2 separate regions of the Homo sapiens genome follow, and region 1 is linked to region 2. The links come from fine-mapping of genetic effects on gene expression. A gene starts in region 2. The other region holds a variant in brackets. All regions are shown on one strand. Distances are from middle to middle.

What was found. PIP is the estimated chance that this variant, and not a neighbour inherited with it, causes the effect. A credible set is the group of variants that fine-mapping cannot tell apart.
Region 1: its variant is the best candidate, but not a certain one, in a credible set for the expression of GAB3 in whole blood (TOPMed, PIP 0.58).

Annotation. Positions count from the first base shown.
Region 1 is chrX:155,696,935-155,701,333 of GRCh38, reverse strand. All of the region lies in intron 1 of SPRY3 (sprouty RTK signaling antagonist 3), which reads right to left. Among named protein-coding and RNA genes, the nearest start is that of TMLHE, 86 kb to the right of the region's middle. The variant G/A (reference allele first, on the strand shown) is at 2,315.
Region 2 is chrX:154,749,001-154,753,399 of GRCh38, reverse strand. GAB3 (GRB2 associated binding protein 3) reads left to right here and starts at 2,323. Exons shown (of 10, transcript NM_001081573.3): 1 at 2,323-2,446. The coding sequence starts at 2,375. RefSeq lists silencers at 2,368-2,447, 2,618-2,677.

The DNA of each region.
Region 1 (4,399 bases), 950 kb before region 2:
ACTATGAGATATCATCTCACACCAGTTAGAATGGCAATCATTAAAAAGTCAGGAAACAACAGGTGCTGGAGAGGATGTGGAGAAATAGGAACACTTTTACACTGTTGGTGGGACTGTAAACTAGTTCAACCATTGTGGAAGTCAGTGTGGCGATTCCTCAGGGATCTAGAACTAGAAATACCATTTGACCCAGCCATCCCATTACTGGGTATATACCCAAATGAGTATAAATCATGCTGCTATAAAGACACATGCACACGTATGTTTATTGCGGCACTATTCACAATAGCAAAGACTTGGAACCAACCCAAATGTCCAACAATGATAGACTGGATTAAGAAAATGTGGCACATATACACCATGGAATACTATGCAGCCATAAAAAATGATGAGTTCATATCCTTTGTAGGGACATGGATGAAATTGGAAACCATCATTCTCAGTAAACTATCGCAAGAACAAAAAACCAAACACCGCATATTCTCACTCATAGGTGGGAATTGAACAATGAGATCACATGGACACAGGAAGGGGAATATCACACTCTGGGGACTGTGGTGGGGTCAGGGGAGGGGGGAGGGATAGCATTGGGAGATATACCTAATGCTAGATGACACATTAGTGGGTGCAGCGCACCAGCATGGCACATGTATACATATGTAACTAACCTGCACATGTACCCTAAAACTTAGAGTATAATAAAAAAAAAAAAAAAAAGAACTTCATTCCTTTTTATGGCTGAATAGTATTCCATTGTGTGTATATGCCACATTTTGTTTATCCATTCTTCTGTTGATAGACTCTTGGATTATTTCCACCTTTTGGCTATTGTGAATAATGCTGCTATGAACATTGGTGTACAAGTATTTTTTTGAGTAACTCTTTTCCATTATTTTGAGTACATACCCAGGTGTGCTAATATGGTAATTGTGTCTAACTTGTTGAGGAACTGCCAAACTGTTTTCCACATCAGCTGCACCATTTCACATTCCTATTGCTAACTTATAAAGATTTCAATTTCCCCATATCCTCAACAACACTTGTTATTTTCCATTTTTTAATAATAGTCATCATAGTAAGTGTGAAGTGATAGCTTGGAGTTTTAGTTTGTATGTCTCCATTGACTAATGATGTTGACATCTTTTCAAGTGCTTATTGGCCATTTGTTTATCTTCTTTGGAGAAATGTTTATTCAAGCCTTTTGTCCATTGTAAGATGGACAAAAATGGTTGTCTTTTTGTTGTTTGTTTACAACCATTTTGTTTTAAAATGTTTTGTCTTTTTGTTGTTGAATTGTAGAAGTTTTTTATATACTTTGGGTATTAAACCTTAACATATATACAAAAAAAAAAAAAAAGAGATTAAGGGTTTCCATTTGTGCTGTGCCCCAGAGAATGTGTCTTTGTTCCTTTCTCATTCATCTCCAAGCAGAATTCTGTTGTTATTTACTATTTTAGGCTTTTTAGCTTGATGGTAGTTTGGGGTGTGGCCTCTGTTGTTCTGATTAAGAGTTAGTTATAGGCATGCACTATGTTCTTGCATCTTAGGTATATGATCTGATAGGTTTTCCTGACTCTCCCCAGCTGTAGTTGTAGGCTCAACATATAACCCTACTCCTTTCTCAGAAGTAAAGCTTTCCTCCTGTTCCCTTTCCCCAGAGGCAATAAGTGTTCATCAATGCCATAATGCCAGAGGTTCTGGTTGCCCTTCCCTCCATAGTTCAAGGCTTCATTTTCTGTATTGGAAGTAGAGGAGAAATATCCAGTGGGAGTTTCTTGTTCCTCCAGCATAGCTACTGATATCTTACTCCAAATCTGCATCACAACATACACTTCTAGAACGCTTTCTGATATTTTCTGGGAGCACCCGTTGAGGTTCATGGAGGACCGTGCAAGGTGACACTGACCCCTCCAAGTTCTTGGCACATAGGGGTTTCACGCTGTCTTGCCAGATTACTCTCAGGCTTCACCACGTTGTCAACTATTCTAGCTCAATGCTTCTTACAAGGTTCTTGTTGTGTCTTATATGAGTGTGTAATTTTGTCTTCTCTTTTGTCACATGCACCATTCTTTCTCCCTTAGATACGGGCCAACTGTTTGCTCTGAAACCCAAGCTCCCTGATGGGTTCAAAAAAACTATGAGTTCTAGAAGTTTTTCTGTAGACTCTTTGGGATTATCTATAGAGACACTGTTGTTGTCTGTGAATAGAGAGAGTCACCTTTCTTACTTTCCAATCTGTTTGTCTTATATTTCTTTTTTCTTACTTAAATCTTAGCACTGGCTAGGGATTCCAATACAATGTTGATTATGAGTG[G/A]TGTTAGTGAATATCTTTGCCTTCTTTTCAATCTTAGTGGAAACAAGAATTCAGTCTTTCATTATTATGATGTTAGTTATAGTCCTATGTGGATACCACTTATTAGGTTAAATTTTGATATAGGATATTCATTGACTGGGGAAATCTCTACACCATTGATTTTCACATGTAATACCCAACTACACGTTGATAGCCATTCCGTATTAATCAGCACAGTCTAACCAGATTGTCTCTAGTGCAAATGGGGAAGGAAAGAGTCACAAAATATTAAAGTGGATGGTGAAATAGGGATAGATAGTTGATTACTTGCTTGCTTCTCAGCATCCATTACTCCCTACTTCTGATAACAATACCTTGAATTCCCTTTTTGAAACTACTCTTCTCACATTCTCAACCATCTTGGTCAAAGTAATTGATTTGGGGATTGGTACACAATTCATTGAGAGCCTATAAAATGAAAAAAATATACTGGTTAAAGATAAGTTATTTCTCTTCCCTGGGAATTGATGGCATGAGGATGTGAGCTTTAGATAAGCAGAAAACATCTTGCCACCATATCAGGGTTAGCCTGAAGATGAAGTTTATACAGCAAAGAAGGAAGAACTAAGAGATGCAGAGAAATGGAATGTGGTAGACACTGCCAATTAGCTGACCCAACATCCATTCCCAAATCCATTTTTTATGTGGTTTGCCACTCTAAAGGCAGAAAAATCTGAATATTCACTTTATCATCCTCCTTTGTAACTAGATGTGGCCATATGACAGTTTGCCAAAGAGATATAAGTGAAATTTTGCTGAGGAATTTCCAACAATTTTTTGTTTTTTTCTTGATAAAGGGGACATATATGAGTGGTACTACTCATCCATCTTTATTTCTTGCATTGAATGCAGATTTGATCTCTGGAGCTGCAGCACTACTTTGTAGCCATGAAGTGACAAGCATGAGGGAAGTGCAAAGATAATTGTAAAAATTGTGACATTGTCAGGCTGCTAAACAAACCCATGAAGCAACCTACTTAGAAACTTCTTGATATATGATAATAATACATTCTTGTTTGAGTAAGCCTCTGTAAGGCATTCTTTACTAATATATGAACCACATATTCACTATTTTTTGAGAAAGATTGAATTAGGTTTTCTGTTATTTATAACCAAAAATTTCTAACTGATACAAATAGTATCATAATGGAATTTCCCTAGGGACTCAGGATTACCTAAGTTCAGTCTTACCTCATCTACTCTTCCTGCCCAAAGAGAAACCAGGACTCAAACTCAAATCCATGTCTAAGTTTCTTTATATGAGAAATGGGTTGCATTAGTCAGCGTTCTCCAGAAAAACAGAACCAATTTATACACACACACAGACACACACACACACACACACACCCCTACCTACAATGCACAACCAGGCACTATTCTAAGTGCTTTATGCATATAATCTCATTTAATCCTCACATTGTCCCACAATCAGATATATATGTGTATATATATATATATGTGTGTGTGTGTGTGTGTGTGTATGTGTATAATAAAAAAATTGGCTAATTGGCTCGTGTGTTTGTGGAGGCTGAGAAGTCTCACAGTCTTCCATTTGCAAGCTGGATATCCAGAAATGCCAATGGTGTAGTTCTAGTCTGAATCTGAAGGACTGAGAACCAGGAGAAAGGAGGCTGTAACTTCCCGTCCAAATTCAAAGGCAGAGGAAGACCAATGTCTGAGCTTAAGCAGTCAGGAAGAGAAAGAATCCACCTTTCCTCTACCTTTTGTTCTATTCAGGTCCTGAATGGATTGGATGATGCCCACCTACACTGGGAAGGGCAATATTTTTATTCAGTCTAACAATTCTAATGCTAACCTCATGTCGAAACACCCTCACAGACACAACCAAAAATAATGTTTAGCTAGACGTCTGTGCATTCCATGGCCCAGTCAAGTTGACACATAAAATTAACCATCACAGGGGTACAATAATAGTTCTTACTTCACAGGACTACTGTGAGGATTAAATGAGATGATATGCATAAAGCACTTAGAATAGTGCCTGGTGGTACATTGTAAGTACCCATTACTAGATTGTACTATCCT
Region 2 (4,399 bases):
CATATGTACTGGACCTGATGATCTAGAGGTAGCGAATACTCTAGATGCTTTATTAAGATACAAGTACACCACAGGGCAGGAGATAAGCCCCATGAAAACTCAAGAGCCTGAACCTCAGCAAAGTTTTTAGATGGTCTGGACCACGTTGGGTATTCAACATGTTGTTGTACCGCTTACCACCTACCACTCAGAAAGAGGCACGGCATTTGGTGTGGATGTTTGAATTTTGTAGGCAACATATGCTACATTTAATTGTGCCGCACCAATGCACTCAGCAAGTCATCTGTAGGGTTGCATGTTTTCGGGGAGAGATCCAGGGCAAGAAAAGGCTCTGTGACAGGTCCAGGCCACTTGACCCTTATGACCATGTAGATTCAACAGGTACAGGACCTTTGACACACTGGGAGGCTACACGGAGCCTCTGGCAAGTCCCAGTAGGAGAAACACACAGCAAAGCCCTAGAGTTTTGAAGTAAACCATGCCCTCTACCACAAAAGAAGTATTTTCCTTTTGACCAACAGCTTCCAGCTTGCTCCTGGGCTGTGGCAAAGTCTGAATGCTTGACCATGGGGCACCAAAGAACCATGGAACTTCAGCTGCCACTGATAAATTTGGTGCTATTTCATCCTCTTTTGGAAGTGGAATATTTGAGACCAGACTCAAGCAGGTCTGGAAGGTACAGGAAAGTTGCTAGAGCAGGTGGCTCACATCTTTGTGGCCCCTGCTGCTGCATGATCACCATTCCCTGGACTTACACCCAGAATGTCGTAGGGAGTTCCTCATGACCAGGTCTATCGGTCAAGGTTTCAAAAGGAAGCAAACAGTAGACTCAAGGGGTTGAAATGAGGAAAGTATAATTAAGGGATTTTTTTTTTAACAGAGGTGTAAGCAAGACTTAGAGAATTAGCAATGCATAGTGGGGCTCTCAGGGACTGGCAACAGTTGATATGGCCACAGCCACTGCTAAGTGCTCAAGCTGCCCACAGGCAGAGACAAACAATGAACCCTTAATAACAGCATTCCCTGGGGGGACCAGACAGCCACCTGGACTGCCATCTGGAAGGGGCAGCAATTTTTTCTCACTTGAACAGGTACTAATTTTGTACATGGATTCGCTTTTTTAAAATTCACATTTCTGCTGGCACTCCTGCCCATTGACTTACTGAACCCATTATTCACACTGACATTATCTCACACAAGAAAATCATTATAAGCCAGTGTGCGCATGCTGATGGACTCCACTGGTGTTACCATGTTAGCTCATCACCCTGAAGCATCTGGCCTGATAGGATGGGAGGTTGGTCATTCTGTTGAAGATGCTAGCAAACGTCACATAGATGATACCCACAAAAAGCAGAGGGTGGTGCTTAAGTGGATGGGCTCTTGACACAGCTCTGGCTGCCTATGGATGATTTTCTCGTGTGGCTCTCGACAAGTGACACTGTCATCCTGTTTTTCATTTTAGTAACCTGCAAAATTGAGATAATAATAAGAGCCCTTTGACAGGGTGTTGTGTGGATTCAATGAGATAACGCCTGGAAAGTGCTTAGCACAATCGCTGGCATGGTGTTAGCTTGGCAGTAAGGAAGGTCACAAGTGTTAGGTGCTCATGATTGTTATTTTTACTTAGCGTGGTCAGCACACTAGTTGGCACAATCGACTTTAGATCCATCTTTTAAAACCTTCGAGTCAAAGAGATTGCAAACAGCACTACCTTTTGAGTTTGGGTCATTTGGGTTCATTAAGACATTTAGACCGTTTAGCCGGCAAAGCTTATCACTGAATACAACGATCTTTGGGGGAGGGACATAGAAAACACACTACTGTGCAAGCAATCAAGTGGAATAGGGAAGTCCAAGAGGAGTCTTGCTTTTGTTTCTCCGTGAACTATGCACATGGCAGATGCAGGTGGTACTTGGGTTTCAGCTCCAGGGTCCCTGAGACCCAGGGACCAGCCCGTTTGGCGTGGCGGATTGGGGATGGGGCATGAGGGCAACAGGTTCCAGGCTGTGCTCCCATTAGGTCGCAGGGCTCCTTCCGAGCGCTTTCTCGTGACCCTGGGTGAGAGTGGCAGGCGCCCTGCTGCGTAGGCTCCCCCCCCCACACCCCCCCCCCGGGCACAGCCGCTGGCGGAGCTGCAGTTGCTCGAAGGGGCTTCCCAGGCTTCGCTGCTTGCTTTTCCCGCCGTCTTGGGTTGCGGGCGGCGTCGGTTCCCTCCCCGGGGGCCGCGGCGGCCGGAGGCGGGGGTCGCAGCGGCCGCTCGGGGCGGCGCTGGGCGGGCGGGCGCTGGGCCCGCCCCGCCGGCATCCTTGGCCCGACTTCCTTCTGCCGCGGGCGGCTGGCCCAGCTGGAGGAAGCGGCGGCGGCGGCCACGATGAGTGCGGGCGACGCAGTGTGCACCGGCTGGCTCGTTAAGTCGCCCCCCGAGAGGAAGCTACAGCGCTACGTGAGTAGGGGCGCCGCCACCCGCCCGGCCTTCGCGTCCCGGGGCACCCGCCCGCGGGGCGGCCGCGGGGAGCCGCTGGGCTCCGGGCGCGCCAGGCGCAGCCGCTCCCAGCGCCCGGGACTGCGGGCGAGGCCGACGGACGGAAACCGAAATCGCACGTCGAGCCAGCTTCGCCGCTGTGCTAGGCAGCGGGCCGGAGACCAGGTGGCGCCTGCCCGCGGGGCTCAGGGACTCCAGACCGCCGCTGACTCTAGCGGAGGGAGGCGGGTTGGGGCTGAAACCTCAGGCGCCACTCTCCGTACAGGAGCGGCCAGGGAGACATCTCGAAAGCGTGCCCCTTTCTTTGGCTGGGGGTGGCTCTGAGACCCATCGCCCCGCGAAGGAGACGCGGCAGGGGATAGGGAGACTGACAGCCAGAGGGGAATTGCCTGCATTCCCCCTGGACCGTAAGGAGTAAGGAGTGCTGCTCTTGTAGCTGTCATCGGACACTGCTGTCTGGAACCCTACACAGTGTAACTCGTTTCTCATCGTGTAACTCCTTTCAGCTTCTTCTTAATGCTGACACCGCGCTTTTATAGTGCCAGCTGGACAACTGACTTTTACTAATATGAAATTAGGAATACTTGGAAGAGCGAATCTTCCTACCTATTCCATTACCGTTTTAAGATGTACTATCGACACCTCAAACGTTCATTATCTCCATCAGCGTCCTCACGATAAGGTCTTAAAAACATTCTGCTTAAAGACCTGATTGCTACTCAGTGTTTTTCAGCCATTAGGAAGAACCACTTCAGTCCCCAGGGAGTTGCATATAAATAGCTATTAGGACTTCTTGCTTTTTTTAGGCTGGGAGTAGCTGGATGGATTCATCTTGTTCTTAATTCCTAATTTCTCTGCAACTTCACTGCACGGTGGTAGGAACAAACTCGCGCATGTCTGCGCTCATCCAAAGCAGCCCACCCCAAATGTGGTTCAGCCTTGTGCTCTTGTCTATACAGTGCTCTCAAACTGCTGTCCTCTTCTGGCCAAATTTCACAACTGTTTTTGTTCCCACATAGATGAGGCACATATTGTGTGGAAGTTCAAGAGGTGGGATTATAAAAAGACTTTAATAATGTATGAATACTTCCAGAATGTGTGGCAGGAGATTTTCCTGAACATAGAGTTGCTCAAGCCCTCTTTCCCCATTCACATCGGGCTAGACAGTGTGTGTTTCTCTCTTAGGGGTCTTTGAAAAGATTTTTGTTGTTTGTTCTGCAGAACAGAACTTTAGAGGAAGGTTGTTCTATTTAGCACGTGAATATCAGGAGTGCATAAATACTGAGATTTCTCTAAGTGCCAGTGTGTCCCTACATCATTTGCTTTTGAGTCCAGGAGTCCATAAGCACAGGGTCCAATATCTCTTGGCCTCTGCATTATCCAGCTGCTTCCTTAACTGTGAAGCTACTCAAAGGAGGCAAGAGAAGAAAACCTGCTCCCATCACCTGCATGAGCAGGTGAGGCTTTTGTCACACAGTAGTGCTTGCAGTGTTGACTCAGGATGGGTTTCCTTGTTGTCCTTTGGAATGACAGACATTTTAAAGGTTCACTATACAATTTCAGTAGATGATACAGAAAGATGCCCCTGGAGGGCAAAGATTATAGAATATTTTATTTCCCAGTCTTTTTTTGTATCTTAAGCAGACTGGCTTAGGGAAGTTTATTAGTATTTCATCAACTTTGGGAAGGCATGAGTGTGTGTGCCTATTATCACACGCGGTTCATTCCTTTAGGGGATGTGGCAAGAGTGGACACTGCGCAGCTTAGAGATATGTGGGGCGTGTGATGATGGGGCAGTGACTAGACTTAAGACACAAGAGTACCTAGGTGTCATCTTACCAACACTCCAAGACATAAACCTTGATGTTTGGGAACTGTCTCTAAGAAAGATCATATCTAGTCAATGCTTTTTTC